7 linked regions of the Homo sapiens genome follow. The protein of the gene in region 1 purifies or fractionates together with the protein of each later gene. This does not show direct contact. Each region holds a gene or a part of one and is shown in the gene's direction. Other genes may lie near its edges.

The links.
Region 2: the proteins of OTUD6B (region 1) and SULT1A4 purify together in Homo sapiens (co-immunoprecipitation; one large-scale study listed by IntAct). This does not show direct contact.
Region 3: the proteins of OTUD6B (region 1) and BTBD2 purify together in Homo sapiens (affinity purification with mass spectrometry; one large-scale study listed by BioGRID and IntAct). This does not show direct contact.
Region 4: the proteins of OTUD6B (region 1) and GALC purify together in Homo sapiens (affinity purification with mass spectrometry; 3 studies listed by BioGRID and IntAct, with this or other methods). This does not show direct contact.
Region 5: the proteins of OTUD6B (region 1) and ASCC3 purify together in Homo sapiens (affinity purification with mass spectrometry; one large-scale study listed by BioGRID and IntAct). This does not show direct contact.
Region 6: the proteins of OTUD6B (region 1) and SWAP70 fractionate together in Homo sapiens (co-fractionation; one large-scale study listed by BioGRID). This does not show direct contact.
Region 7: the proteins of OTUD6B (region 1) and KNOP1 purify together in Homo sapiens (affinity purification with mass spectrometry, with the first as the bait; one large-scale study listed by BioGRID). This does not show direct contact.

Annotation. Positions count from the first base shown.
Region 1 is NC_000008.11:91,076,667-91,080,972, forward strand, and holds part of OTUD6B (deubiquitinase OTUD6B), read left to right. Parts: coding exon of another isoform or gene 1-65; exon of another isoform or gene 66-66; intron 67-1,689; coding exon 1,690-2,002; intron 2,003-4,002; coding exon 4,003-4,064; intron 4,065-4,306.
Region 2 is NC_000016.10:29,458,474-29,463,271, forward strand, and holds the start of SULT1A4 (sulfotransferase 1A4), read left to right. Parts: upstream 1-1,439; 5' UTR 1,440-1,512; intron 1,513-2,908; 5' UTR 2,909-2,912; coding exon 2,913-3,060; intron 3,061-3,164; coding exon 3,165-3,290; intron 3,291-3,379; coding exon 3,380-3,477; intron 3,478-4,798. UniProt on the Homo sapiens protein: Sulfotransferase that utilizes 3'-phospho-5'-adenylyl sulfate (PAPS) as sulfonate donor to catalyze the sulfate conjugation of phenolic monoamines (neurotransmitters such as dopamine, (R)-adrenaline/epinephrine, (R)-noradrenaline/norepinephrine and serotonin) and phenolic and catechol drugs.
Region 3 is NC_000019.10:2,005,132-2,009,437, reverse strand, and holds part of BTBD2 (BTB/POZ domain-containing protein 2), read left to right. Parts: intron 1-4,306.
Region 4 is NC_000014.9:87,941,014-87,945,319, reverse strand, and holds part of GALC (galactocerebrosidase isoform a precursor), read left to right. Parts: intron 1-3,761; coding exon 3,762-3,925; intron 3,926-4,306. UniProt on the Homo sapiens protein: Hydrolyzes the galactose ester bonds of glycolipids such as galactosylceramide and galactosylsphingosine.
Region 5 is NC_000006.12:100,510,758-100,514,881, reverse strand, and holds part of ASCC3 (activating signal cointegrator 1 complex subunit 3), read left to right. Parts: intron 1-1,963; coding exon 1,964-2,173; intron 2,174-4,124. UniProt on the Homo sapiens protein: ATPase involved both in DNA repair and rescue of stalled ribosomes. 3'-5' DNA helicase involved in repair of alkylated DNA: promotes DNA unwinding to generate single-stranded substrate needed for ALKBH3, enabling ALKBH3 to process alkylated N3-methylcytosine (3mC) within double-stranded regions.
Region 6 is NC_000011.10:9,725,990-9,730,295, forward strand, and holds part of SWAP70 (switch-associated protein 70), read left to right. Parts: intron 1-2,063; coding exon 2,064-2,210; intron 2,211-3,353; coding exon 3,354-3,462; intron 3,463-4,306.
Region 7 is NC_000016.10:19,704,027-19,708,227, reverse strand, and holds part of KNOP1 (lysine-rich nucleolar protein 1), read left to right. Parts: intron 1-1,006; coding exon 1,007-1,318; 3' UTR 1,319-4,201.

The DNA of each region.
Region 1 (4,306 bases):
ATCTTTCTGCGTGCTGTTTCCTCAGAAGAGGAAAATGAGGGGTTTTGGATTAGATGATATCTAAGGTGCTTATTCTTCCTTTCCCCTCTGAAACTTTTTTAGTCTTTTATAAAGTAATAGTGCCATCTTGTGTTTTAAGATATTATGCCTCTGTGATCCACAGTTCTAGGTACACAGTGAAATAAATTTGTTCCTATTACTTATACAAACCTTAAATAGGCTATGTTTTATTAGGGAGATATTACTGCTTTTGATTCAGGTAACTTAGAAATCACTTTAGGTTCATCTAGCATGGCACATAACAGGCAAGTAGTACAGGTACATGACAATAAGTTTAATTGAAACTTGCCTTCCCATTCACTTTTGTTCCAAGGAGAAATCAGAGCTAGTGTTATGGAAGTCTTTACCTTTTCCTATTCTTGGCTTACCAAATCCTTCACTGTAACTTATTAATGTCAAAATTTATATAACTTAGTTTTTATTCTTAAATTATAAAGCAGTTTCCGCTTGAGTGTACAAACAAAATATATGATAGAGAATTAGAAAGATGCAGAAAAACATACAGACATACACACACATACACATACACACACCCCAAAATAAAACTTATTTTGGAATCCCGTCATCCAGAAAAAAGCACTATAAATACTTTGTGTATATTGTAGTTTCTTTTTAGTCCTATGTTAAGTATAGACCTACTGTATATTAATTATATGCCTATGCTTTTTGCCTCCAATTTCATCTCTTGACAGTTTTCTCTGGCACTGTAGCTCTAGGAACTGTTTTTAGCTATGAAACATATAGTGCTTTCTGGCTTTTGATCATTACTAGTCCATCTGTTAGGAATTTTTTTTCCTTTCTTCTTCCCCAACCTTCCCTATACACCTCCTGTCTATTCTTCATGTCACAAATCTCTCATTTCCGTCACCCCACTCCATCCTTGCATATGTTTCCATGGGAGGAGCTTATCAGACATTTGCATAAGGAAAGCAAATTGTAGAATGTAACATATGATACCATTTTTATTAAGAATTTATACATATTTTCAAGAGTATACCATATTTATTAAAATGAATGGAAAAACAATCTAGAAGGATGCATACCAAACCTCTAGAGCAAGCACTGGGATGGCAGTGGTGTTATGGGGAGCTTGAGTCTCTCTCTTATATTTTAATTTTTTTTTTACAAAATATTTGTTAATTAAATGTATGTGTATACAGACATTTTAAAAAGCTTGATAAAAAGGGTGTCTGCCTGTACCCTTTTAAAGGCTGTGTCATATTAACACGTTACTGGTGGACTGATAAGAAGCCTGGATTAGCCTGGGCTTTAATATAATAATAATGTGCTTTAAGGCCTAGGATAACTCAGTCTTAAGAGAATACTTTGAAATCAGTAAGTAAGGTTTTTAGAAACTTGGCATGTAGCCTTTAAGTAGACTTTAAAGAAAAATTAGAGGGCTTTCTTAATGTCCAGTATAGAGCAAGGTGCTGGAAACACACAGATGAGTAAGAGAGTAAGGAGCTCACCTTGTAGAAAATTCTTGAGATGATCAATGTGATAGTGTTTGTGCGAGAAGGGAGAATAAACACCGGAAAGTTTTGAGACCTTTACATTTCCCTTCCCTTAATAAATGAGAATTAGTCCAAATTATTATGAATTAACTTTCATGCATTCTGCTTTTCTTAGGAAAAGAAAGCTGCATTGGAAAAGGAGCGAGAAGAACGGATAGCTGAAGCTGAAATTGAAAACTTAACAGGAGCCAGACATATGGAAAGTGAGAAACTTGCTCAAATATTGGCAGCTAGACAGTTAGAAATTAAACAGATTCCATCTGATGGCCACTGTATGTATAAAGCCATTGAAGATCAACTGAAAGAAAAGGATTGTGCTCTGACTGTGGTTGCCTTGAGAAGTCAGACCGCTGAGTATATGCAAAGCCATGTGGAAGACTTTCTGCCATTTTTAACAAACCCTAATACAGGAGATATGTATACTCCAGGTAATTTATTTTTCTTTACTATGTTTTATTGTTGCTTTGTTGTAGTTGTTTTTAAATAAGGTGCTTCCCAGCACTGAGCGTAAGAAGAACCCAGATGATCCTTATGAGGAAAAAACATCACAAGATTTAGGCAGAATTATTTTCTGTAATTTTAATAGATGTTGGTGTATTTTTCTCTATTAAGATTTCTTAATTACTTAGTTATTTTGTAATTATAATATGCTAATCATTTTATGTAAGATAGAAGTAGGAATAAGAGTCATTTTTGAAAAAAATGTAAGTTCTTATTTGACAAAGTGAAGTATTGAGGAAGGTAAGCTTCAGGAAGTATATATAGGGTCTGAAGACCATAAGGAGAGAATGACTAGGAAAACCATTTCCTGCTTTTATCTTATAATTTGGGAACTTTACTTTTATTTACAATAAGCTATAATTAGGAAGATTAGTGTTCAAGTAAAACAAATGGGTTAATAACCTGCTTTATTCTATACAATACTATCACAGTTAAGATAAAATATTTATGAGGAAGTAAAAAAGTACACAACTAGCAGATGAGGAAGAGAGCAAGTAAAAATCTGAATAGGTTTTGGGGTAGTAATGAATGGAATAGAGGACTATTAGTCCTTGAGAGAATATGGCAGGTTTGGCAGTATCCATTGTTCCCACAAGTCATATGGCCAGAATGGGTTGCAGAGAGAAAGGTTAAAATTGACTTTCCTTTAGTGGAGTCTGTCCTCCATGGAGGAAAGGTAGAGAGTGATGCAGAATTGATAAGAATGAGCATTGGCAGTCAAGTGTGTCTCCTTTAGTGTGCATGGCTTAAGGTATCTGTTGATAGATTTCAAGAATGACTTAAGCATAATCTAATTCTGTAGTGAATTAATTTCCCATAGATGTCATATTGGAAATGTTAACTTATCTCTTGCTGTTTTAGGTCATTGCTGTTTTCTACATAAACAGAATTTGCTATGGGACATAAAACACATTTTTCCATATATTTTGATATATGCATAGGCAATGTGATAAATGACTCTTCTGTCATTTATCTCCCAAATGATTACTGAATCATTGAAACTCCCCAATTGCGCTAGTTGTAGGGCATAGAGGAGGTGGCAGTTCAGTATGCTGAGTCAGAGAAAAACACAAAAGACTTAATTAATTATCTCCATTTATTCAACCAATATTAATTGAAGGCCGCTGTGTGCCAAGCACTACTCTAGGCACTGTTCTGAACGCTGAGGATTTAACAGGGTATGAGACAAACACATGAGACATATTTTTCTTCTAGATGTCCATAATTTCTTTCCTTCCATCTCTGTAGTAAGGATAATTGTTTTCCATTTTAACATACTGTGTAAAAAGGTGTATGCACAAAATATACCCATTGTAAATTTAGTGATTAGGTCTTTTATTTCTCAGGGCTGATGTGAAAAGCCTTTTCCTTGGTTAGAACTGATACTTATGCAAGTAATGTAAGTGCTTCCAAAATAACAAGTGGAGGCACTGTTTGACGCTATCTCTGGGGAAGGAATTTCAATTCATCTGTACTTTTACTCGAATTCTCTTCGTATATTTCCCAGAGTCTTACAGTAAACCTGATTATACAGGAACTACATTTTTTTTGTCTTTCATGGTATTCCTTTGGATGCAGGTTTGGGCTTCAAAACACATGTCAAGATAGTGAATATGGTGGCAATTTTTGGGGTCAACGCTTGGGGTAGAGTGAGGTAGGTTTGTTATATAGGGAGGGTATCTGGGCCTCCAACAGAAGAAGAAAAGCAGAAATGGACTGCTTTGTTCTTGGATGGAAATGTGGTAGAAAGTTGGGGTGAATTAAGTTTGGACCTGGGAGTTAGATTAGATTCTGGAGGATAATGGTAGAGAAGGAGAATGTTCATAACTTGGGCATTTTTGTCAGGAATTGTGGGAACTATAAAAGGGATTTTGTAACATGAGTTACAAAAATTATTAAGTGCTGTATTCTGACCTAATCTCTACAGAAGAATTTCAGAAGTACTGTGAAGATATTGTAAACACAGCTGCATGGGGAGGTCAGCTTGAGGTAAGTTTGTAGTTATTCATAGTGATTGTGGGTTGTTAAATTATTTCTAAATCCCTTCTGTAGTTTTTAGATGTTTCTCAGCTGATCCCAATTTCTCTTTGAAGATTCCTTTTCTTTATATATTTGCTCTTCTCAACTGACAAAGAAATAGGGAGTTAACATGATTAGGTCTGTGATTAAAGTATGTATGTTGAGGGATTGAAACACTATTACATTTTAAATAGCTCAGTGTTAGATCTGTG
Region 2 (4,798 bases), on another chromosome or scaffold:
GGGATGCCCTCCTTCCACGGGGCCCTGTGGCTTCCAAGTCTTAATCTCCTCTAGTCTCTTGTCTACGGAGCCTCCTTCAAACCCAGGGAAAGAAAAGCACCTGCCAGGGTTGTTTTTCTTCTAGGATCTTCTATTGATGCTCTGTGAGGTCCCCCAGGAGCCATGAAGCTAGGGCTGGCTCCTAGGGCAATGGGACTACAGTGTCCTTGTCCTTTCTTATTCTTTCTGTTCTTTCTTTCTTTCTTTTTTTTTTTTTTTTTTTTTTTTTGAGACAGAGTCTCACTCTGTTGCCCAGGCTGGAGTGCAGTGGTGTGATCTTGGCTCACTGAAACCTCCGCCTCCTGGGTTCAAGTGATTCTCTTGCCTCAGCCTCCTGAGTAGCTAGGATTACAGGTGCCCGCCATCATGCCCAGCTAATTTTTGTATTTTTAGTAGAGACAGGGTTTCACCATGTTGGCCAGCTTGGTCTCGAACTCCTGACCTCAGGTGATCCTGCTGCATCGACCTCCCAAAGTACTGGGATTACAGGCGTGAGCCACCACGCTCAGCCTCTTTCTTGTTCTATATGTCCATGCTCTGCTCCACTTCTGCCCCTTCACTCTGCCCCCACACATCACTCCAGACTGGCCTTGTGGTCAGAGCCTGGAATGCCTGGGCTGCTGGGGGCCTGTGGACTGCACTGGGCCAGAACCCCTGCCGCCTTCAAGACTGGCCTGTAGCCAGCAGGTAGGTGACTTTTCCCAGGCCGGCCTATCCCACCTTTCCCCTCCACTCACTCACCTCCCTTGCCTGGGTCAATTAGAGAAAGCTTGTCGGCCAGGCATGGTGGCTCATGCCTGTAATCTCAGCACTTTGGGAGGCCGAGGCGGGCGGATCATCTGAGCTCAGGAGTTTGAGACCAGCCTGGCCAACATGGCAAAACCCCGTCTCTACTAAAAATACAAAAATTAACCGGATGTGGTGGTGTGCACCTGTAATCCCAGCTACTCGGGAGGCTGAGGCAGAAGAATCGCTTGAACCCAGGAGGGGGAGGTTACAGTGAGCGGAGATCGTGCTACTGCATTGCAGCCTGGGCGAGAGAGCGAGTCTCCATCTCATATAAAAAAAAGAAAAAGAAAGAAAGAAAGCTTGTCTGTTGGCCTGCCCTGCAGGGTGGAGTTCAGAGGGAAGGTCAGGAGCCTAGTGACAGCTCAAAAAAAAAAAAACCCAAATACCAATGTTGGCCCCTTTTGCCTTTCATTCATGTGTTTTCTATACACTAAACTCACATATTGGGTTTGCAGATCACTCCAAGCTTGGCTGGAGCTGTGGTGGTAAGGAGGGTAATAGAGAAGCTTCCCCACCCTCAACCCCACCCCTTCCTTCCTGGAGTTCCCAGCCCTGACTTTAGATCCCTCCCACACTGGACCTTCAAAACCCTCAGGGCAGAGAGCAGCCCTACACTCCCTACACCACACCCATACTCAGCCCCTGCAGGCAAGGAGAGAACAGGTCAGGTTCCCGAGAGCTCAGGTGAGTGACACGTTGGAATGGCCCAGGGCACCTTCACCCTGCTCAGCTTGTGGCTCCAACATTCTAGAAGCCGAGGCCTCTGCCATCCCTGCCCTTTCCCATGGATATTCCATTTCAATTAGACAACCCAGCCTGGCCGGAATCCCCCTGCGTTCCTTCTTTTCCTTTGTGTATTTTTGAGACAGGGTGTTGCTCCGTCACCCAGGCTGGAGTGTAGTGGGATCCTGGCCCACTGCAGCCTCAAATTCCTAGGCTGAGGCAATCCTGCCGCCTCAGCCTCCTGAGTAGCTGGGGTTACAAGAGCAAGCCACCACACCCAGCTAATTTTGAAAAATATTTTTTGTAGAGGAGAGGTCTTGCTTTGTTGTCCAGGTTGGTCTCAAACTCCAGGGCTCAAGGGATCCTTTCCCGTTGGCCTCCCAAGGCTCTGGGATTACAGGCGGGAGTCACCCTGCCTGGGCCCCTCCTTTTGATGAGTCATCAGTTTTCATTCCCGCACGAGGCTCTAGCCCCTGGTACCAGCTTAGTTGCTCAATGGGCTGTGTTTGTTCTGGAGCCCAGATGGACTGTGGCCAGGCAAGTGGATCACAGACCTGGCCGGCCTGGGAGGTTTCCACATGTGAGGGGCATGAGGGGGGCTCAAGGAGGGGAGCATCGGGGAGAGGAGCGCACTGGGTGGAGGCTGGGGGTCCCAGCAGGAAATGGTGAGACAAAGGGCGCTGGCTGGCAGGGAGACAGCACAGGCAGGCCCTAGAGCTTCCTCAGCACAGCTGGACTCTCCTGGAGACCTTCACACACCCTGATATCTGGGCCCCGCGCTACGAGGGTGCTTTCACTGGTCTGCACTATGCCCCAGGCCCTGGGATTTTGAACAGCTCTGCAGGTGACTGAAAGGTGCGGCCAGGCTGGGGAACGACCTGGTTTCAGCCCCAGCCCCGCCACTGACTGACTTTGTGAGTGCGGGCAAGTCACTCAGCCTCCCTAGGCCTCAGTGACTTCCCTGAAAGCAAAAACTCTGCAAAGGGGCAGCTGGGTGCTGGCTCACACCTGTAATCCCAGCACTTTGGGAGGCTGAGGTAGACAAATCACTTGAGGCCAGGAGTTCTAGACCAGCCTGGCCAACATGGTGAAACCCCATCTCTACTAAAGAAAAAAAAAAATTAGCTGAGCATGGTTGTACATGCTTGTAATCCCAGCTACTTGGGATGCCGAGGCGGGAGGATTGCTTGAACCCAAGAGGTGGAGTTTGCAGTGAGCTGAGATTGTGCCACACTGCACTCCAGCTTGGGTGAGAGTGAGACTCCATCTCAAAAAAAAAAAAAAAAAGAGAGAATCCCACTTTCTTGCTGTTGTGATGGTGGTAAGGGAACGGGCCTGGCTCTGGCCCCTGATGCAGGAACATGGAGCTGATCCAGGACACCTCCCGCCCGCCACTGGAGTACGTGAAGGGGGTCCCGCTCATCAAGTACTTTGCAGAGGCACTGGGGCCCCTGCAGAGCTTCCAAGCCCGACCTGATGACCTGCTCATCAACACCTACCCCAAGTCTGGTAAGTGAGGAGGGCCACCCACCCTCTCCCAGGCGGCAGTCCCCACCTTGGTCAGCAAGGTCGTGCCCTCAGCCTGCTCACCTCCTATCTCCCTCCCTCTCCAGGCACCACCTGGGTGAGCCAGATACTGGACATGATCTACCAGGGCGGCGACCTAGAGAAGTGTAACCGGGCTCCCATCTACGTACGGGTGCCCTTCCTTGAGGTCAATGATCCAGGGGAACCCTCAGGTGCATGGCTGGGTCCTGGGGGTAAGGGAAGTGGAGGAAGACAGGGCTGGGGCTTCAGCTCACCAGACCTTCCCTGACCCACTACTCAGGGCTGGAGACTCTGAAAGACACACCGCCCCCACGGCTCATCAAGTCACACCTGCCCCTGGCTCTGCTCCCTCAGACTCTGTTGGATCAGAAGGTCAAGGTGAGGCCGGGCTCAATGGTTCACACCTGTCATCCCAGTTTGAGACTGAGGAGGGAGGATCCCTTGAAGGCGAGAGATGGAGACCAGCCTGGGCAACATTGCTGTAGAGATGACATCCCATCTCTACAAAAATAAAATTAACAACCTGGTATGGTGGCATAGACTGTTCCCAGTTACTTAGGAGGCTCAGCGGGGAGGACTGTTTATGCAAATAGGAAGCTGCAATGAGCCCTGATGATCCTGCTGCTGCACTCCAGCCTGGGCAACACAGCAAAACCATCTCTACGAAAAAAAAGTTCCCACTGACTGGCAAGGAAAGCCAGGAAGGGGGGCTCAGGTGCCCTCTCAGCCATGTACCTGTTCTTCTGGAAGGGCCTCCTCGCTTCTGCCAGGCTCATCACATCTTTTTTTTTTTTGAGACAGAGTCTTGCTCTGTCACCCTGGCTGGAGTGCAGTGGCATGATCTCAGCTCACTGCAACCTCCGCCTCCCCAGTTCAAGTGATTCTCCTGCCTCAGCCTCCTGAGTAGCTGGGATTACAGGCGTGTGCTACCACACCCGGCTAATTTTTGTATTCTTTTTAGTAGAGACGGGGTTTCACCATGTTGGTCAAGTGGATCTCAAACTCTTGACCTTGTGATCCTCCTGCCTCGACCTCACAAAGTGCTGGAATTACAGGCGTGAGCCACCGCGCCTGGCCCTTTTTTTTTTTGAGACAGTTTCACTCTTGTTGCCGAGGCTAGAGCGCAATCGTGTGATCTCGGTTCACTGCAACCACCGCCTCCTGGGTTCAAGCAATTCTCCTGCTTCAGCCTCCCAAGGAGCTGGGATTACAGGTACCTGCCACCACGCCCGGCTAATTTTGTATTTTTAGTAGAGATGGGGTTTCACCATGTTGGTCAGGCTGGTCTTGAACTCCTGACCTCAGGTGATCTGGCCACCTTGGCCTCCCAAAGTGCCGGGATTAGAGGCATGAGCCACCACGCCCAGCCTTCATCACATCTTGAGAGAGGACACTGTCTGCCTCTTGCTCTGATGAGGGTCTGATGCAAGGATAGTGAGTCTCTACAGTGCACACTTAAGAAAGGCAGCATGTGGGTGCTCACAGGTCAGCGGAGGAGGGGGAGCTGGTGGGGACCAGGCATGCCTTGCTCCAGATCAGGATATGATGGCATTGGTGCAGATTATATTAGTATAGAATATGGTCTCAGGAACCAGGCAGGACTTTGGCTTCCGAGCAGGGTTCAGATCCCAGCTTGGCCCTACCTGTGCAGTGAGATCTCAAGCAAGTCAGCCTCTAAGCCTCAGGTTCCTCCTTTGCC
Region 3 (4,306 bases), on another chromosome or scaffold:
TCACGAGGTCAGGAATTTGAGACCAGCCTGGACAACATGGTGAAACCCCGTCTCTACTAAAAATACAAAAAATTAGCCTGGTGTGGCGGTGGGCACCTGTAATCCCAGCTACTTGGGAGGCTGAGGCAGGAGAATTGCTTGAACCCGGGAGGCGGAGGTTGCAGTGAGCCAAGATCACGCCACCACACTCCAACCTGGGTGACAGACTGAGACTCCGCCTCAAAAAAGAAGAAAAAAGAAAAACCACAAAAATTAGCCGGGCGTGGTGGCGAGCGCCTGTAACCCCAGCTACTGGGGAGGCTGAGGCAGGATAATCGTTTGAACCTGGGAGGCGGAGGTTGCAGTGAGCCAGGATTGTGCCACTGCACTTCAGCCTGGGTGACAAAGCGAGACTCTGTCTTGGAAAAAAAAAAAAAAGAACAGTGTGTTCTGGGGTCTCACATTTCATTGACTGCTTTGTGAGTCCTTGTTCCCATAACACATTGTTTGATGATTGCTGCTTTGTGGTATGTTTTGAGAACTGCTCACCAAATTCTTCCCAACTTTATTCTTTGTGAAGACTTTTCAGGCTGAGTGCAGTGGCTCACATCTGTAATCCCAGCACTTTGGGAGGCTGAGGTGGGAGGATCACTTGACCCCAGGAGTTCGAGACCAGTCTGGCCAATATAGCGAGACCTCATTACTTGGACATGGTGGTGTGTGCCTGTGGTCCCTGCTACTCAGGAGGCTCGGGTAGGAGGATCACCTGAGCCTGGGAGGTTGCCGCTGCAGTGAGCCATGATCCTACCACTGCACTCCATCCTGGGCGATAGAGTGAGACTCTGTCCCTAAAAAAAAAAAAAAAAAAAGCTGGGCACAGTGGCTCACGCCTGTAATCCCAGCATTTTGGGAGGCCAAGGCGGGCAGATCACCTGAGGTCAGGAGTTCGAGATCAACTTGGCCAACATAGTGAAACTCTGTCTGTATTAAAAATACAAAAAGTACCCAGGCATGGTGGCTTGCACCTGCTGCTTGAGAGGCTGAGGCAGGAGAACCGCTTAAACCTGGGTGGCAGAGGTTGTGGTGATCTGAGATCGCACGACTGGGCTCCAGCTTGGGCAACACAGCGAGACTCCACCTAGAAAAAAAAAAAAAGAGTGGGCGCAGTGGCTCACCCCTGTAATCCCAGCACTTTGGGAGGCTGAGGCAGGCGGATCACCTGAGGTCAGGAGTTTGAGAGCAGCCTGGCAAACATAGTGAAACCTTGTCTCTACTAAAAATACAAAATTAGCCAGGCGTGGTGGCAGGTGCCTGTAATCCCAGCTACTCGGGAGGTTGAGGCAGGAGAATTGCTTGAACCTGGGAGGTGGAGGTTGCAGTGAGCTGAGATCGTGCTGCTGCACTCCAGCCTGGGCAAAAAGAGTAAAATTCTGTCTCAAAAAAAAAAAAAGACTTTCTCAGCTGGTCTGACACATTTATTACTCTTCTAGAATCAGTCACCCACATCCACCCATCTGTCCACCCTACAGATACTCACTGAAATACAGTCCTGGCTACAGGAGGTGCATATGACAGAAAAACATCTCCTTCCTTATGGAACTTATATTCTGTGTTTTGTTTTATTATTTTTTGAGACAGAGTCTCGCTCTGTTGCCCAGGCTGAAGTGCAGTGGCATGATCTTGGCTCGCTGCAAAGCTCTGCCTCCTGGGTTCCCGGCAGTTCTCTTGCCTCAGCCTCCCGAGTGGCTGGGATTACAGGTGTGCACCACCACACCCGGCTAATTTTTGTATTTTTAGAGACGGGGTTTCGCCATTTTGGCCGGGCTGGTCTCAAACTCCTGACCTCAGGCTATCCCCGGCCTCCCAAAGTACTGGGATTACAGGTGTGAGCTACCGTCCCTGGCCTAAGGCGGGAAGATCTTTTGAAGCCAAGAGTTTGGTACCAGTGTGGGCAACATAGTGAGACCTTGACTGTGTGTAAAACAAAACCAAAACAGATAAAAGACACAGGTGCCAGCAAATTCATGTGAAGGGTCAGATAGTAAATATTTTTGGCAGGCCATACTGTCTCAGTTGCAGCTACTTAATTCTGCCGTAGCAGCACAAAAAGCCATAAATCAACAACATGTAACTGAGCAAGAAGAGCTGTGTTCTAATAAAACTTTATTGGCCAGGTGCAGTGGATTACACCTGTAATCCTGGCACTTTCGGAGGCCGAGGCAGGAGTATCACCTCAGGTCAGGAGTTCAAGACCAGCCTGGCCAACATGGTGATACTCCGTCTCTACTAAAAATACAAAAAGTGGCTGGGCGCAGTGGCTCACGCCTGTAATCCCAGCACTTTGGGAGGCCGAGGCAGGTGGATCATGAGGTCAGGAGTTCAAGACCAGCCTGGCCAAGATGGTGAAACCCCATCTCTACTAAATATACAAAAATTAGCCGGGCGTGGTGGCGAGCGCCTGTAATCCCAGCTGCTTGGGAGGCTGAGGCAGGAGAATTGCTTGAACCTGGGCAGCAGAGGTTGCAGCGAGCCGAGATCGCGTCACTGCACTCCAGCCTGGGCGATAGAGTGAGACCGTCTCAAAAAAATAAAAAATAAAAAAATTAGCTGGGCATGGTGGTGAGCACCTGTAATCCCAGCTACGTAGGAGGCTGAGGCAGGAGAATCGCTTGAATCTGGGAGGAGGAGGTTGCAGTGAGCTGAGGTAGTGCCAGTGCAGGCCAGCCTGGTCAACAAGAGTGAAACTCCGTCTCAGAAAAAAAAAAAACTTAATTTACAAAAACAAGTGGTGGGCCAGATTCACTCTAAGGGCCATAGTTTGCCAGCCCTGGGCTAACGGTGCCTGATGATCTTGAGAATCAGTTTGTCAAGTGATAAAGGAATTTACTGAGGAGATTGGTCTTTCTAAGGACATAAAGTTGGGTGATTTTTCTTTTCTTTTTTTTTTTTTTTGAGACGGAGTCTCGCTCTGTCGCCCAGGCTGGAGTGCAGTGGCACAGTGTCAGCTCACTGCAAGCTCCGCTTCCTGGGTTCAAGTGATTCTCCTGCCTCAGCCTCCCGAGTAGCTGGCATGTTTACTTTTATCTGGTTTGAACTGTTTCTTCCTGAAGCCTTATTAGGTTTAACAGTTTTTCTGTGGTCTTGTGCTCTGCAGTAGAGTATCCTGTAGTAAGCGGGATGGTTTGGATGTGTGCTGTCCAATACTAGGCACTCATGTGCCAGTACGGACTACAGATGTGGACAGTGTGACCGAGGAGTTGAATGTTGAATTCAGCTGAATTTGGATATAGATTTAAATAGCCATGTGTGTCTAGTATTGACCCCTTGGACTCTTAGACTTTTTAAAAATTAAATTTTTTTTTTTTTTTTTAGAGACAGGGTCTCACTCTGTCACCCACACTGGAGTTCAGTGGCTCGATCATAGCTCACTGCAGCCTCCAGCTTCTGGGCTCAAACAGTCCTCCCACCTTAGCCTCCCAAGTAGCTGGGACTATAGACATGCACCACTATGCTCGGCTGATTTTTTTCTGTTTAGTAGAGATGGGGTCTGCTGTGTTGCTCAGGCTGGTCTTGAACTTGTGGGTTCAGGTGATCCTCCCAACTTGGCCTCCCAAAGCACTGGGATTACAGGTGTGAGCCACTGCTTTGGCTAAAAAATAATTTTTTTTTTTTTTTTTGAGACGGAGTTTTGCTCTTGTTCCCAGGCTGGAGCGCGATGGTGTGATCTTGGTTCACTGCAACCTCTGCCTCCCAGGTTCAAGCGATTCTCCTGTCTCAGCCTCCTTAGTAGCTGGGATTACAGGCTCCGGCCACTGCACCTGACTACGTTTTGTATTTTTAGGAGAGATGGCGTTTCATCCTATTGGTCAGGCTGGTCTCGAACTCCTGACCTCAGGTGATCCACCCGCCTCGGCCTCCCAAAGTGCTGGGATGACAGACATGAGCCACTGCGCCTGGCTAAAAAATAATTTTAAAAATTAGCCAGGCATGGTGGTGCACGCCCTAGTCCCGGATACTCAGGAGGCTGAGGTGAGAGGATCACTTGAGCCCAGGAAGTCAAGGCTGCAGTGAGCTGTGATCATAGCACTGCACTCCAGCCTGGGTGACAGAGTGAGACCCTGCCTCAAAAAAGAAAATGTTAAACGTCAGGGTCATTCCACTCCGAGGCATTTATCCAGGAGAAGGAGAATCTGTGTCCTCACACAGCCTCGTGCGTGAATGCCCAGAGCAGCATGATTCACAGTAGCTCAAAACCGGAAAACCCGCAGACCAGCCAGTGAGTGCAGAAACAAACCGCGGTTCACAGATTCCATGGAATTTGGCAGTC
Region 4 (4,306 bases), on another chromosome or scaffold:
GAGCAATTTGATTCCAGTATAAAAACTAAGGACTTTTGGACCCAATTATAATTTAATATTTGTTTATAAATAGACGGATTTGTGAGGTATTTTTAAGTTTTTGTTTTGCTGGAGAGTTGATTTGTTGATCTGGTGTTGCCATCTAGTGGACCAATCTTAGAATTACACCGTCTTAGCCTTATTAAAAGATTTACCAGGTGACAGTAGATGGCAATAGTAAAAAGCTAATCAGCTTTAGTCGCCTAGTGAATTTAACTTTTTATTTAGTCATCTGGTAAAGAGACAAGTTATATTATTCACATAAAATATAATGCCAAACTAAAACTTTCCCTTCCTCTTTAGTTACAGAATTTCTATGTGCTGACTTATTCCACCTGTCATGTGTTTCTTTTTCATTTTTTCCTATAACTAGTATGATTCCACTGTGGGAAAAGAAACACATACACATTCCAGGTTTAGAGCTAGTACTAGTAATACCAAGCCACCAAAAAGCCATATCCGAAGCTTGGAAACTGGAGAGGGAAGAGAAAAGAATTCTGAAAAGAGCCTTGAATTGCCTGTCTATGGAGTGTGCAGAAAGTGTTTATCCCTCCTGAAGTGCCTTACTCCCAGTTAGAAATCCTGATTCTAGTCCCAAGCTCTGACATAAGTCTTAAGAAACTTTTAGTTATCCAGAGCCCCTGGAACCCTTATAACACTATGAAGAGTTATTGAGGTGCAGTGAAGAATTCCTTCCTAATTTAGGATGACATTTGTGGCTTGTGTTTTTACGCAGAATTTCTGCTTGTCCCATTGTCTCTGAGGTGGAAACTTTACCTAGATTTTCCAGTTATGGTAGTGGAGTTCTTGGCATCCTTATTTGTGACTGATGGTCTTATTTTAAGTCCAGTGGCTGGGTTTAAGTGTCCAAGGCCTGGGTCCCATTGTTTTGATCTCCAGTTTTGAAGTCGCCGTATAGGAAACTTTTTTTTCTGTGACATCCCCTATACCCCATGCACTTGAATACCATAGAGGGCTCTTTCTAAACTCAAACTCAATCTTATTTCTGGCTGGGACTCCAAAAAGATTGAGAAGCCCCTTAATTGTAGTATAGAAGTGAGATATAGCACCATCCAAAGATTTACTCCCCCAGATCTTCATATATTTGAATCTTCATATACATCTTCACAATTTAAATAGCAATACTCAGTTTTTACTAGGATCTATTGCAGTGGGTAAGGAGGTGGGGACGAGGGATGGGGAAGGGTGTAGAAGGGAAGAGAGTGACATATTCTGAAAGGAAAGGAACCGGGAAGTTGCAATTTTGCGTGTCAAGAAAGGCCTGCCTTCATCTTTCTGAAGCCCTGTTTTCATCATGTTATTCCCCTGCTCAGGAAGATGCAGTGACTCTGTCCTGCTACCTGTGTTTTCCACTTCTAGGCTTGATTTCCAAGACCCTTTATAATTTGGTCTCATCTATTATGTGTTATTTTCCAGTATTCCACCCTCTATTTGAGGCAGCCAGATCTGCTCAGAGATCCACACAAATCCCTTGTTCATTTCTGTTGTCTGGCTGCTGTGCCCACTTATTGTGGGAAAAGGAGGGAATAAAAATTGGGTAATAGTAGGCACTTTGATGGATTTCCCACACAACCACTTTATGGTGGAGATATCATCGTCCCCACCTTGCAGACTGAGAAACTGCATCTTTGGAATAAGATTTACCCAATATTTCACTTGTAAGTGGCAGAACAAGGGCTAGAAGCCGGGTCTGTGTGACTGAGTAGCCCATTCTCTTTGGAGTACATCTCACAGCCTCATTTTAATCATCTTCTTCCTAAAGGTAGGAAATGAGAAATTTGTTTAGTTTATCTGTAGTGCTATTTTAGTAAATCTGCTCTCAATGAGTGCACACTACTCACAGTTTTTAGACTTGTGTTTTGAGTAGAACTTCCTCTCTTATACCTAGATTTAGTCATTTACCAGCACAGTAATTTGATTATATGGGATAGATTGTACTATAACTGGCTACTTCTATCTTGATAGTGAGCATTGGTTGGAATCCTTTAAAGACAATCACAAAATTACCTTTCCCTGCACACAGATGAACTCTCTTGGATCAAATTTGCCTTATGTATTGGCTAGTTTTTGTTCTTTCAGCATTACTGAGAGATTGTGGCTGTGGAAGAATAAACCACACTTTTATTCCATTTCATTCATTATCTGTGAAATTGCCTGGCAAGTTCTGATGCAAGAATCACTTATTCTGGAATGTGGTATATAGAAAAGGAAAGTTTGATCTTCTCTCATTCCAACTCTAAATAGAATAATTTTATGGTGCTGATGGTATTTGTAGCACTTTCAAACTTCTGATGAACCAGAAAGGAGGTAAGGGATGTAAGTACCAGTGTTGATTGCCAGTGGTTTCATGCTGGTGATAATCTATGGAGAGAAAACTCCCTCTGATGTCAGAGGACATACAAGAGAGACTGGGCTTGAGTTACTTAGCATTTATCTTCCTGTAAAGTAGTCCAGCTCTGCTTAGATAATTAAGTGTGGATTGTCCTCCCTGTGTAGCTGATGTAGGTACTTCTGTAATATTTTCCTTTATGTAGTAAAATTTCACTGTGCAAAATTCACTGATAAGACACAGAAATGTAAAAGCCACATAATTCTAGATCTCATTCCCCCCAGCCCATTTCCAGAATGGATTTCTTGGTGTTTCCAGTTTTATGTGAGATATATTGCTTGATTTATGACTTGGTTATGTGCAGGCTTTCTTTTTCTTCCCACTTGCAGTTAGATACTGAGTAGGAAGTGAAATATTTTCAGAGATCATGTTGGTTTGGGGTGGTTGTAGCATTCCAGAAGGAAAGTGTTGTACCTGGTAGCATTTGTAAGAGGAAACCTGGAGGAGAGCTCACTGTAAAAGCTCTGGTAGTCCCTGGACAGCTGAATCTTTTCCCATCTTTGATAGACTGCTGTGGATCAGTGAGCCTAGAACCAGGATTTTATTGCTTCCTTATAGACAGATACTTCATAGGGGAAAATGGTCCTCCAAGTGGCATTCCTGGACGAGCAGCATCAGCATCACCTGGGAACTTGTTAGACATGCACATTCAAGGGGCTGCCCCAGATGTACTGAATCACGCTGTGGGGTAGGGCCAGTGAACTGAGTTTAAGAAGCCCTCCAGGTGATTTCAGTGCTGTTCAGGTGTGAGAAGCCCTCCTAGAGAGTCAACTCTGTGGTCTTTGCAGAAAAATAATTTTAGATCTTTTCTCCTGGAGTTTTAAAGTTTTGTTAGATTTAAATGTAAAAGTTGGCCCCGGAATAGCTTGTGTTCTCTCAAAGGCTCCTAGCATTGCCTTCATTGCCTCTCTTTGTTGATGGAAGTTTGAATAAACATTTTCCCTCAGAATTGTGTGGAACTTTTTACTTTTTAATGTGTTCATAGACAATAGTAGCATTTTAAAATATTGTATTCTTAAGATGAGAAGTTGTTTTATTGTAGAAAAAAAATTTTCTCAGGAAACTTAAAAATCATAACTATTATTGTCCAGTAATCATTTAAAGAGGCAATGAAATGACTTAAGTCATGTAACATTTAAAACTGTTGTCAATAAAGATTCTTGAAGCCCATCTCTGCTACAGGCTTAGACTTAGCAAATCACATTCTCACCTCAATTAGAAGTTTGGAAGCATGTGCTGTGAAATGACATATCTGTACTATGTTACAAAGGGCATATTTTAAAGAGTACTAATCAACCGTTTTATTTTGCAGGACCAATCTGACTATAAAGTGTGATGTATACATAGAGACCCCTGACACAGGAGGTGTGTTCATTGCAGGAAGAGTAAATAAAGGTGGTATTTTGATTAGAAGTGCCAGAGGAATTTTCTTCTGGATTTTTGCAAATGGATCTTACAGGGTTACAGGTGATTTAGGTAACTGACTTTTTTTTTTTTTAATAGCATATGACTTATGGGCTATGTTACTTTGAGCACCTACTTGTTATTTGTGGGAGTGATAAAAAGAATTCAACCCAAGGTGTTTGGACATCTAATTGGGAAGGGATGTAAGCAAATACCAAATAGTTTACAATTATAGAAAGTTATTTAATTCCTAGAGATGGGGGCAGCTCTGTGGAAGGGAAAATAATTGTACAAAGCTTTTAAGGGTATTGTAGAGTTGAACTGGGCTGTGAGGATAGGATTTGCATAGATAGTATCAAAACCATCTGAGGTAGTGGTGGTAGGGAGAGAATGCTCAGGAGGCACCATAAATAAAAGCAAGAGTATACGACTGTTGCTGCTGTACCTATAGAA
Region 5 (4,124 bases), on another chromosome or scaffold:
CATCAATTTAAGTGCTAATTGCAGTAGTAATGAGAAAAAGCAGTATGACTGTGAGATTTGCATCTTCTACCCCATCAGTATGCCTGGAACGGCTGCTGACTGGCAGAGGATTTGGCTGCTAATTAAATAATTGTATGCATGGTAGTGCTCTTGCCTGATTCAATAGATGAAGATTAATCCTCAGATAAATATGTTTGGCTGGTATTGAAATGTCTTAGCAGTTTCTTTAAAAATAGTTCATGTTTTATATACATAAATATATATATATATATCCAATAAATATATGTGTACACATTGTAGATTGAAAATAATAATAACATTAAGTCCTACAAAAATTACATATATATAAAAGCCAGATATGACATTTGGGGACTTTGTAAAGTAAAATCCCAATGAGTTACTAATAACAAAACATTATATTGGTAACTGATTTAATGGTACAGGTAAAGAAACATAACAAGTCTTGCTTCATGGGGTAAATGTTACTTGTGCTGTCTGACAAAGTCAAATGCTTTACAGAAATTGTGTTTTTAAGTCCCCTTAACCCCTTTTCCAGACTGGCCAGTCCTAGAAGAACATCTAGTGGTACAGCTTCTATACTTAGTGACTATGGGTTCTAGCAGGGGATAGACCATCCTTTGTACAGGTTGTACAGATTGAAGTACCATCTGTGGCTTGACTACTTCAAAATCCAGTTCAAGACATGATTTCAGATTGATAAGACAAGTTATAGGATTGGAGTTGAATTGAAAATTTGCATTGAATTTACATTTTTTTTAATTCCTAAGGGGTAGTTTGGTTCATCAGGACTACTTCATTTCAATTAGGTATACTCAGCAGCACTAAGCAAAATCAAAGCCTATAAGGAAATCTATAGTATATATTAAAGGAATAAAAGAAAAACCAAAATTAAAGTACCATGTACTTTTAAAAACTAACTGAGAAGGTAACAACTGATTAAAAAAAAAAAAGCCAATGTATTGAGAAGTTTTCTTGACTGATGGTGATATTGCCATATAAGTGTATATGTTAGAAAAAGATGACCTCAAGTTTTTTGTTACATCTTTTCTGTAGACCTAGGTATTCTCATTCATTCATTCATTATTGTTGAGCACTTGCTATTTGAATACTGATTTTTTACAAATGTCTTTCCACTTCAAGAGCAAGTATAAAGTTAGGTAAAATATCTTTTAATGTGTCATTTTAATTGGTATTCTCAGTATGATGATGCCAAAAATTCATATTTGTTTCTAGAAGGAACCCTAGACTTATAGAATTCCTTATGATATAAAATATAAAGAATTTTTTTCTGAATAAATAGGGCAAATTTGAAATATGGGCCAAAAAATGTACAATAAGTGGTCAGTGGAGGATTCTAACATCAATAATTGAATTACAAAAATATTTTCACATTGCCCTTTTATCCCCAAGTAATGCTCTCCTTCTTAGAAGCCATGTGAATGTCTGAATAGATGCTTCTCTAAAACAAACCAGTTCGATAACAGACATTTTTTAACTTGTTTTATTTTAATATAGTCAACAGCTGCTCAGTATCAGGAAGGATTTACAATAAAGGAATCACAAGTTTAAATAATGATAAGCCCTCTTTTAGTTATTTTTACAAAGACATTAAAAAGACTAAAAGCACAATATTCTTACACATACATGCATATAGACACAAATACAAGAAAAATTGGGGAAATCTGAACAAAATCACTGGATTATGTTAATGTCAATATCCTAGTAGTAATAAGTACCGTAGTTTTGAAAAATGCTACCTTTGGAGGAAACTGGGTAAATGGTCCACAGAATGTCTCTGTATTATTTCCTGCAACTGCATTGGATCTAGAATTAATCTCAACATTAAAAGGTTAATTTTCGTCTAAAAGCACACTATTTCTTAATTGATCATTGCATTTCACATAAACTCCTCCTTTATTGTTTCTTTTCTCTTTTTATTTAGGCATGGAATTTCTTATCTCACTTGCCAGTGATAAATGTTGGCATAAGTGTTAAAGGCTCGTGGGATGACTTAGTTGAAGGACATAATGAACTCTCTGTCTCAACTCTGACTGCAGACAAACGAGATGACAACAAATGGATCAAATTGCATGCTGACCAAGAGTATGTGCTTCAAGTGAGCTTGCAGAGAGTCCACTTTGGGTTCCACAAGGTATAGTGTTTGGTTTCCATTCTCAAATATTTCACACCAAATACCAGCATGCACCACCACACATATCTGTTATGTGACTAATGTGCCCGTGTCATTCATGAATCCTGCTTTCTCAACTGGTCTTAAGCAGCGAGAGTTAGTCTTTTGAAATTCGTGAGTTCTCCTCATGTGTCATTTTTCAGCCCCAGAAAATCTACCTTACATAAGAATATATTGCCTAGAGTACTATTCTCAAAGTATGGTATACAGACTCTGGCCAGCAGAATTTCCTGGAGTGCCTTTTAAAGTGCAGATTCCTTGGCCCCACTCCAGACTGGCTGAATCAGAACCTCAAGGAGGCGGGAATCTCAAAATCTATACCTTCACTCAGTGCCCCACATGATTTTTAAGGGCCTTAAAGCTTGAGCAGTACTGGCCTAGAGGCACTTTGGTATACAGGAACCACATTGGGCTAGATGTAGATGAGACTGAAGCTTTACCACTTAGCTCTATGAATTTGAATAAGACATTAAGCTTTTCTGAGCCTCAGTTGCCACATTTGCCTGCGTCCTTCATTATAATGCATAGGAGAGCTTTGTCAATGTTCATACAGGCAAAAATGTACAGTATTTTTATTTTAGATTACTATGCTCTTTTCTGTTGCCTCTGATTATCTGGTCCTCTAAGAATATTAGTACACAGCAGGTGGGCAGATTGGTTTTTAGTGCCATAATAATTAAAATAAGAAAGAATTAGTCTTCTTTTTGGTCCAGTGGATTCAGGGCTTTCCCATATCTAGAATAAGCCCTCAGGGGTGAAGCTGTAGTTCATAAGTATTGTCCCTTCTGTTCTCACACACAAAATGATCAGTAACTTTCTATTCTTAAGATGTTCTTTCAGTATTGTACCTTCAAGTCTCACCTCATTTGATTTCTAATTCTAAAAAAGTCTGTCAGTGTAAGTATTAACTGATTGGCCTCTGGCATTTCAGAGGCTTTAGTATGAGCTTTTTTTTTTGATACGAAGTCTCACTGTGTCGCCCAGACTTGGCTCACTGCAACCTCCACCTCCTGGGTTCAAGCATTTCTCCTGCTTCAGCCTCCCAAATAGCTGGGTTTTACAGGCATGTGCCACTACACTCAACTAATTTTTTGTATTTTTAGTAGAGATAGGGTTTCACCATGTTGACCAGCTCATCTTGAACTCCTGACCTCAAATGATCCACCTGCCTCTGCCTCCCAAAGTTCTGGGATTACCAGCATGAGCCACCACACCTGACCTTAATATGAGGTTTCATTTGTTTGTTTGTTTGAGATGGAATTTCACTTATGTTATCCAGGCTGGAGTACAAGGGTGCAACATCAGCTCCCTGCAACCTCCGCCTCCCGGGTTTAAGCAATTCTCCTTCCTCAGCATCCCGAGTAACTGGGATTACAGGTGCCTGCCACCATACCCAGCTAATTTTTTGTATTATGTTGGCCAGGCTGGTCTCAAACTCCTGACCTCAGGTGATCCACCTGCCTTGGCCTCCCAAAGTGTTGGGATTACAGGCGTGACCCACTGCACCTGGCAATATGAGCATTTTTTAGATGACTTAATGTATTCCAACTTATAAAAAAAAGTAATAATTACAAACTAATAATAGTAATAATAAAAATAGCAACAATCATAAAGATAAAATCATGGGGGAAAACTATGATTTTTTTACCTTAATATTCTACTTAAAGCTTAGATTTAATCATGCCAGAAAATCTCTTAATTTTTGTTTCTGAATGCTGTAAAAATATATTACTCTCTGACTCCCTTTTGAAATACTGTAAGTGAAACATCTCCCTCTAGAATACTGAGTGAAGTCTGAGAATGTATCATTATTACTATATTTTATGCCATAAAGTCATTGTCTTAAAGAATCATTAGAATAATCTTGCATTTTATAAAAATTGATCTAAAATAAAGACCTCAAGTGCGATCA
Region 6 (4,306 bases), on another chromosome or scaffold:
AGGTAATGTTATGCATGTGTGTAGAGCTGTCAGGAAGGTGCTTGCTAAAATGTTTACAGTGATCACCTCTAGATTGTGGGATTTTGGTGAATTTTTTTCTTCTTTATTCCTTTCTGTATTATTGGACTTTCTATATGATTTTATATTATTTTTATAAAATCAGAAAAATACCTCTACTTGTGGAAAAAAAAATACCTTTATGTAGCAAAGTTGCTTTTGTCTTATTTAGACTGTCCTCTTTTTCTCAGCACCCAGCATAGCAGATGAAGCTCGATGCTTGTTAAATACAATTTATATTTTTTTGGTGATTCTTTGAAACTTCTTACATTATTATATTGAATAATAACTGATTTGGGATTTCCTTACTTTGATCCTTTCTTTCTTCCATAGGTAATAGTGTTGTCTTTGTTCTTTTTTTTCCTAATGGAGCACATCATAAATGTTGAGGCTGAATTTGTATAGGTTTTTGGTGCTACAAAGAGGTATGAGACGTGGTCTCCATCTGAAGTGGAATTCTCAGCCTCTTAGGATGGCAGGATATGACTGTAGTAGAATTGCCGTATGAGATAGCTTTTGCTTAAATGTCCAAAGATTAGGAAACTGAATATGTAATATGATTAGAACTTAATATAATAACCAACTGAAACTTACAATCAATATCATATATATTTAATGATATGTATATTCTATCATGCGCTATCAGCACCTGTAGATTTAATACTAAAAATAGCAGCTATTCTTAAACAAGCCTGAAGGGCTTTGGCCTATAATAATGTATAATTTTGCTTAAGTAAACATTTGAGTCACACACCTTTGAGGCCAGTCTGTGGGAAGGAAATACAGAACTAGTGAGTGTGAGCTTAGAAGCCACATTTAGAAGCCAGTATTTGAACTCCTGGTGCAGTATTTTCCTGTTGGTCTGGGGCAGAGTTCCTCCTTCAGAATATTGAGAGGTCAGGCAGAAAGGTAGGTTGGTACCAGAGGTGGAAGTCCTTGAATATTTGGTTTAGAAGATATATGTGGCCAAGCTTTAGCATTTTCATTGATTGAGGTTTTACTTACCTCAGTCATTTAACATTTTCAGTGACTGAGGTTTTACTTATTTTATTTAAAAATTTTGGCTGGACGTGGTGGCTCACGCCTATAATCCCAGCACTTTGGGAGGCTGAGGTGGGCGGATCACGAGGTCAGGAGCTTGAGACCATCTGGCCAACATGTTGAAACCCCATCTCTATTAAAAATTCAAAAATTAGCCAGGCATGGTGGCATGCGCTTGTAGTCCCAGCTACTCAGGAGGCTGAGGCAGGAGAATCATTTGAACCTAGGAGGCAGAGAGGTTGCAGTGAGCCGAGATTGCACCCACTGCACTCCAGCCTGGGCGACAGAGCGACACTCCTAAAAAAAAATTTTTTTTTTGTAGAAATGAAGTCTCACTATGTTGCCCACACTGATCTTGAACTCCTGGCCTCAAGCGATCCTCCTGCCTTGGCCTCCCAAAGTGCTGGGATTACAGGCATGAGCCACTGCATCAGGCCTGATCGAGGTTTTAATTTACAGAGAATCATTGTTAGGGGTTCATTCTTTCTTTTTAAGTGGAATAGACCAGTATAATGAACTCCCACATATGCATCAACCAGCTCCAGTAACCACCACCATGTGGCTAATCCTACCCCACCTACTTTTACCTCTCCTGTATTATTTTGAAGCAAATCTCAGGTATTTTATTTTGTTTATAAATATTTCAATAGGTATCTCTAAAAGATAATGATTTTTTAGAAATCTCAAATGCTACTTAATGTCAAGGGGATTCTATTGTCTGCATATCACTTTGGGGAGGGGTTGTCTCTGAAGTGTCTGAAATTATATGCAAATTTTTGTCTGGTTATGCTTGCATGACTAGGTGTAATGCCCCTCCATAGATTCTCAGAGGATCCAAGAACAATTGGTGTTCATGTTTTCAGGATCATATATCAAATAATGGAGTAGGCAAGTATATCAAGGAAGAGATGTCAGCTCTTACAAATAAAAAGACAATAATTTATATCACATTTAATCTTTCACAGGGTTACATGATGAAAAAGGGCCACAGACGGAAAAACTGGACTGAAAGATGGTTTGTACTAAAACCCAACATAATTTCTTACTATGTGAGTGAGGATCTGAAGGATAAGAAAGGAGACATTCTCTTGGATGAAAATTGCTGTGTAGAGGTGAGTCTACTCTTACTTCTTTGCATGATTACCCCGTGCTGCCCCCTGATGCTGAAGTAGCTTCTCACCTTCTTCCACCTAGACTCTAGAACCTTAAAATAATCCCCAAATTTACATTTCCAAAATAATATAGGCATGCAGTTGCCATGGTTTCTGAACCAAAAATTAAACATAGCTGACAAAATTTTTTTCTAATGTGAATTTATTTTCAACCTTCTACTCGTGAATAAAGTATAAGGATTAAATCATTTATTGGAACATTTAAGGAATCATTTATTGAATAAAATGGAGTCATAAAAGAGATAATAAAGTAAAAAAAAGTTCAGTAAGACAATATTTGGAATAAAGAATATGCCAGAAAATCTGGGACATTTTGAGTGCAAGAAATAAAAGAAGATGTAAGCATTGTCTTTGAATACTTTGGGTGACTTTCAGGACACTTTATTCATAGGTACTAATTCTTTAAAGAAGTGAAATTCTCAAGAACATAAATTTTTGAGTTTTTAATTTTTATATGAACTGTCCCCGTGTCTGTATGTGTTGAAGAACATTTAAATACCTGAAATCTCACACATAAACTATAATGTATTTTAGTGAATAATAATGTCTTGAGATGTGTGATGCCCATGAAGGAGTCTGCTTAGATTTAACTAAACATGGAGATCTACAAGGTTACCAAAGGCCAGTTTACTCATAAACATATAGGACAGAAACCACGGGTTGCCAGCCACAACATTCCAAGTGCAAGAAGAGAAAGCCACATTAAGCAGATGTAGGAATCACCCTGGCTTAGGTGCTTCATATCCCATAGGAGTTAATACCTCTTGTAACATCATCACAGATGTACCTTCCAGGATTCCTGCAAGGGAGGTGCTCAGGATAAGAGCTGCTATACTCAGGAAATCCCAATGCATGGCATCCTATCAGGTGTTTATAGTTTTACCAGTCTAGATGTAGTATACCAACTGGGGTCATTTTTACCATAAGTAATGTGCTTAGGAAACAGCATTAGTAAATCAGTAATATGAATTTATAGGTATTTTTCATTGACATTAAGTTTCAGCTCATTTTTATAAATAATTCAAATTGAATTTCATTTAAATACTTAAAATTTTGAGGAACTAATTTTGCTTTCTGTTTTAGTCCTTGCCTGACAAAGATGGAAAGAAATGCCTTTTTCTCGTAAAATGTTTTGATAAGACTTTTGAAATCAGTGCTTCAGATAAGAAGAAGAAACAGGAGTGGATTCAAGGTAAGGTGATTTTTTATTATTTGCCATGATATAACTTGAAAGCTCTGACTTTCTTTTTTTTTTCTGAGACGGAGTCTTGCTCTGTTGCCCGGGCTGTAGTGCAGTGGTGCTATCTTGGCTTACTGCAACCTCCACCTCCTGGGTTCAAGCAATTATCCTGTCTCAGCCTCCAGAGTAGCTGGGACTATAGCCACCACGCCCAGCTAATGTTTTTGTAATTTTAGTAGAGACGGGGTTTCACCATGTTGGTCACGCTGGTCTCAATCTCCTGACCTTGTGATCCACCTGCCTTGGCCTCCCAAAGTGCTGGGATTACAGGCGTGAGCCACTACGCCTGGCCGAGAGCTCTGACTTTCTAGTTTTGAATCTCATGAAGGATGCTAAGGCGTTACTTCCTCATTGTAGTTATTTTCTGCATGTGATACAGTAGCTGAGAGAAAAACAAATTAAGATGCGCTCTCAAAGTTTTCATTAGTTTTATTTGCATAATGAACTTTGGGTAAATTATAAATGGGAGATTTACTTTTTAAATAGATTTTGGGGTTGCAAGTATAGTTCTGCTACAGTGATATATTGTGTAGTGATGAAATCTGGGCTTTTAGTGTAATCATCACTCGCATAGTTGCTGTTAGGTAATTTCTCATCCCTTGCCGGCCTCCTGCCTTCCCACATTTCTGAGTCTCCAATGTCTATTATTCCTTGCTGTATGTCCATGTGTACACATATTTTAGTTCCCACTTATAAATAAGAACATGTAGGCCGAGTGCGGTGGCTCATGCCTATAATCCCAGCACTTTGGGAGGCAGAGGCGGGTGGATCATGAAGTTGGGAGATCGAGACCATC
Region 7 (4,201 bases), on another chromosome or scaffold:
TTGGCTGTGTGACCTTTTACCCCTGTGGGCCCGCACCCGTTCCCGCCATAAAACAGTGCTTCTGAGAAGCACACTTCAGATTCCCACTCGCCCTCTCCCACCCTCCAATTCACCCAAACGTTAGGCTGCTGGGTGAGTGCGCCCGGCTGCTGGGCTGTGGGGTGCCCTGTGTTGCAGGGGAGGTGCGCCCTGTGGGGAGGTGGGGGAGGTGTGCTGTCTTGTGAGATGCATGGTGGGGTGAGGTGCGCTGTGTAGGGAGGTGGGGGGAGGTGCGCTGTATAGGGAGTGGGGGAAGTGCTATGTAGGGAGGTGGGGGAGTGTGCTGTGTAGGGAGGTGGGGGGAGTGCGATGTGTAGGGTGGTGGGGGGAGTGCACTGTGTAGCGTGGTTAGGGGAGGTGCGCTTTGTAGGATGGTAGGGGGAGAGTGTGCTGTGTAGCGTGGTGGGAGGAGGTGCGCCATGTGCGCCGTGTAGGGAGGTGGGGGGAGTGCTCTGTGTAGGGTCGTGGGGGGAGTGTGCTCTGTAGAGTGGTGGGGGAGTGTGCTGTGTAGGGAGGTGGGGGAGGGGAGGTGCACTGTGTAGGGAGGTGGGGGGAAATGCTTAGTGTAGGGTGGTGGGGGGAGTGCGCTGTTGTGAAGTGAGGCACACTGTGCCGTGTGCCATGAGTTAGGAAAGGAGGAGGAAGGCAGAAAGGCAGCTCTGTGCAGAGGTGGGCAGTGGTGTTGGCTGGACCTGGGCTGGAATTCTGGGGGTCACTAGTTAGGTTTCTGTCTCCAGCTAAGCTGCAGACCTCTATTTTCTCCTCTGTGCAATGGGAATAACAACAGTGTTTCTCATAGGGCTGTCTTTAGGATTAACGGAATAATCCGTTGTTGAGCTTATTAGCACTGTGCCTGGTACACAGCAGCCATCTAATCTGCTGGGCCCTCCCTGATGAGGGTGGGGGTCAAGGGAAGGAAAGGGCTTTGAACTCAAGGAAAATAGCCACCTTTTTCCTCTCCTCACAGGGAACCCAGTTTGGCCAGTGGGATACTGCTGGTTTTGAGAACGAGGACCAAAAACTGAAATTTCTCAGACTTATGGGTGGCTTCAAAAACCTGTCCCCTTCGTTCAGCCGCCCCGCCAGCACGATTGCAAGGCCCAACATGGCCCTCGGCAAGAAGGCGGCTGACAGCCTGCAGCAGAATCTGCAGCGGGACTACGACCGGGCCATGAGCTGGAAGTACAGCCGGGGAGCCGGCCTCGGCTTCTCCACCGCCCCCAACAAGATCTTTTACATTGACAGGAACGCTTCCAAGTCAGTCAAGCTGGAAGATTAAACTCTAGAGTTTTGTCCCCCCAAAACTGCCACAATTGCTTTGATTATTCCATTTATGCTGGAGATTACAAATTTTTTTTGTGAAAAAATCAGATCTTGGTGAGGACCTCGAGCAGTAAGATATAAATAACTCCCATAAGCTTAGCGTTCCAGTAATGGAACACTAGGCATAAATGGTTTATTCAGTTGTGCAAATGAAAGCCATCTGACAGTTGGCTCACATTGAACACCTGTGGAGATTAAGGACGAGGACAACTATATTGATGGGCTTGGATGAACTGGGGCAGGGCAGCTCATATTTCGGGAGCCAGGAGAACGAGTGAGTGCTAAAACCTCCTGTTTTCTGTGTTAAACATTCCGTCCCTGTTTGAGACATCAGTATGTACAGTTAACTTTTGTTGAGTGTTTAGCAGGTACTAGGGACATACTAGTGTTTTCCTTAATGTATTTAATCTTCATAATTATGAAATGGGTGCTATTATTAGCCCCATCTTATAGATGAGGCAACTGAGGTTCAGGGATAAAGTAATAAAATTGCCTGGGGTCACCCAGCCACTAAGTGCAGGGTGTTGTACTTTTGTACCCGAAGCCCTAAGTTCACTATTCGCCACTCTGAATGTCCCCTTTAGGGAATTTCCACCAGAATCCTCGTTGGGGATTGAAATGTCTTTAGATGGAGGAAAAAGTTTTATGACAAGTCTGCATCTCTGATAAAAAGTGGAGTGAATGAGGAACGGAGAATCGCAAACTCCTTTTCCTTCCTTTTCCTTTCCCCTGTCATAGAGCAGCTGTAGGCAGAGAGGTGTCTGAGTTGTTACCAAACACATGTGACTGAGCTGCTGCTGCTGGGAAATGTGCCTCTAAACCAGTCCTGCCTTTTCCACTGGTGTCCCTTCGGCCCTAAGTGCTGAGGTAGGATTTTTGTGCTTTGACTGGATTCTGAACAAGGCATTTTAGGAAGAGTGGTTAGTCCCGCAAATGAATCAATGGCAGATCCCAGGGACGTGTGTGTGTGTTTTGAGATAGGCTCTCACTCTGTCACCCAGGCTGGAGTGTAGTGGCATATCACGGCTTGTTGCAACCACTACCTATCCAGCTTAAGTGATCCTCCCACCTCAGCCTCCCAAGTAGCTGGGACTGTGGGTGTGCACCACAACAACCAGCTAGTGTTTAAAATTTTTTGTAGAGATGGGGTCTCACTATATTGTCCAGGCTAGTCCCAAACTCCTGGACTCAACTCATGCTCCTGCCTCAGCCCCCAAGAGCTGGGATCACAGGTGTGAGCCACTGTGCCCAGCCCCAGGGATGTGTCTGATGAGATTCTTTTTTATCACAAGGAAGAGAATCCCAGGTGACTTCTGTAGGTGGATATTGAATGCCAGGAGGAGATGAACGTGTGGAGATGACACGGGAAGTTGCCTCATCGGCTGTGGGGACAGCGTTTCCAAGCCTGGACTCTACAGCAAGCCTCAAAGAGCTCCAGGTCCAGTGGCCCAAGTCGCATGTGACCATCTGTGACCACCTTCTTTCCACTCACCTAGCTTTTTGCATCCCAAAATACAGGTTCTGACTGGGACATTTTCACGATCGTTTGGCCTGAACATGCCTCCTACAGACATCCCAGCCCAGGCAGGCCTCGATGGCCAGAAAGTTCAGTCTCACGTGGCAGGAAGGCCTGATTAGGGCCTGGTTCAACAGCTCGCCAAGGAAGCATTCTCTCCATCATCTCCAGTGTTGGCTTCATCAAGGCTAGTACAAAGATGGCAGTAACAGTTCCAGGCAGCATATCAAGACCCTAGAACATTCCAGAGGAAGAAAAGCCTTTTTGTGTCTCAAGGAAACTTCCAGAAGCCTCCATTGCTGGGCAATGAGTCATCTGCCCATAGCTGCACCCGCCCCTGTCATGGGAAGGCTGGTGATTCCCTTCAGTCAAGAAGAGTGGATGCTGGTGAAGTGGCCATGGTGTCCACAGCTGCCCATTGGGCAGAGGTGAGGCAGGCACTTCAGGCAGTTTCCCTGGCTCTGAACCCTGATCCGCAAGCATTGGCCAGGTCAATAGTTGGACAAGTATGTGCTACAAGGACCTACTTGGGCCACTTCCCTCAGGACGTGAACTTGTCCTGCCTTTCTTTCCTGGATTCAACCTTGAGATACATAATGGGAGAGGCCGTGGAAAGCCCAAGAGGCAGTGTTCTGGATTTGAGTGAGTGCCTTCTGGGCACCTCCTCCTTTGATGGAGAAACAAATCCCTCCTGACCTTGAGCAACACTACAGGAATGTGCCTGGTGTAAACAGGAACCAGCCGTTCGTTTCTTTTTTTTTGAGATGGAGTCTCACGGTCGCGCAGGCTGGAGTGTGGTGGCGTGATCTCGGCTCATTGTAACCTCTGCTTCCTGGGTTCAAGCGATTCTTGTGCCTCAGTCTCCTGAGTAGCTGGAATCGGCCGTTTACTACTCATAGTTTTTATCTTGCCAAGAGGTCACCCTGACGTTGGCCTGCCTTAGCTCTGTTAAAAAGGTTGTGCTCTGCCAGGTGCGGTGACTCACGCCTGTAATCCCAGCACTTTGGGAGGCCAAGGTGGGCGGATCACGAGGTCAAGAGTTCGAGACCAGCCTGACCAACATGGTGAAACCCCGTCTCTACTAAAAATACAAAAATTAGCTGGGTGGGTGTGGTGTCACGGGCTTGTAATCCCGGCTACTCAGGAGGCTGACAGGAGAATCGCTTGAACCCGGGAGGTGGAGGTTGTAGTGAGCTGGGATGGTGCCACTGCACACTCTAGCCCCGGGCAACAGAATGAGACTCTGTCTCAAAAACAAACAAAAAAAAACTGTCTTTGGGTGATTGTGGAGAGGTGATCATATGTCCGCTGTGTTGCTCCCAT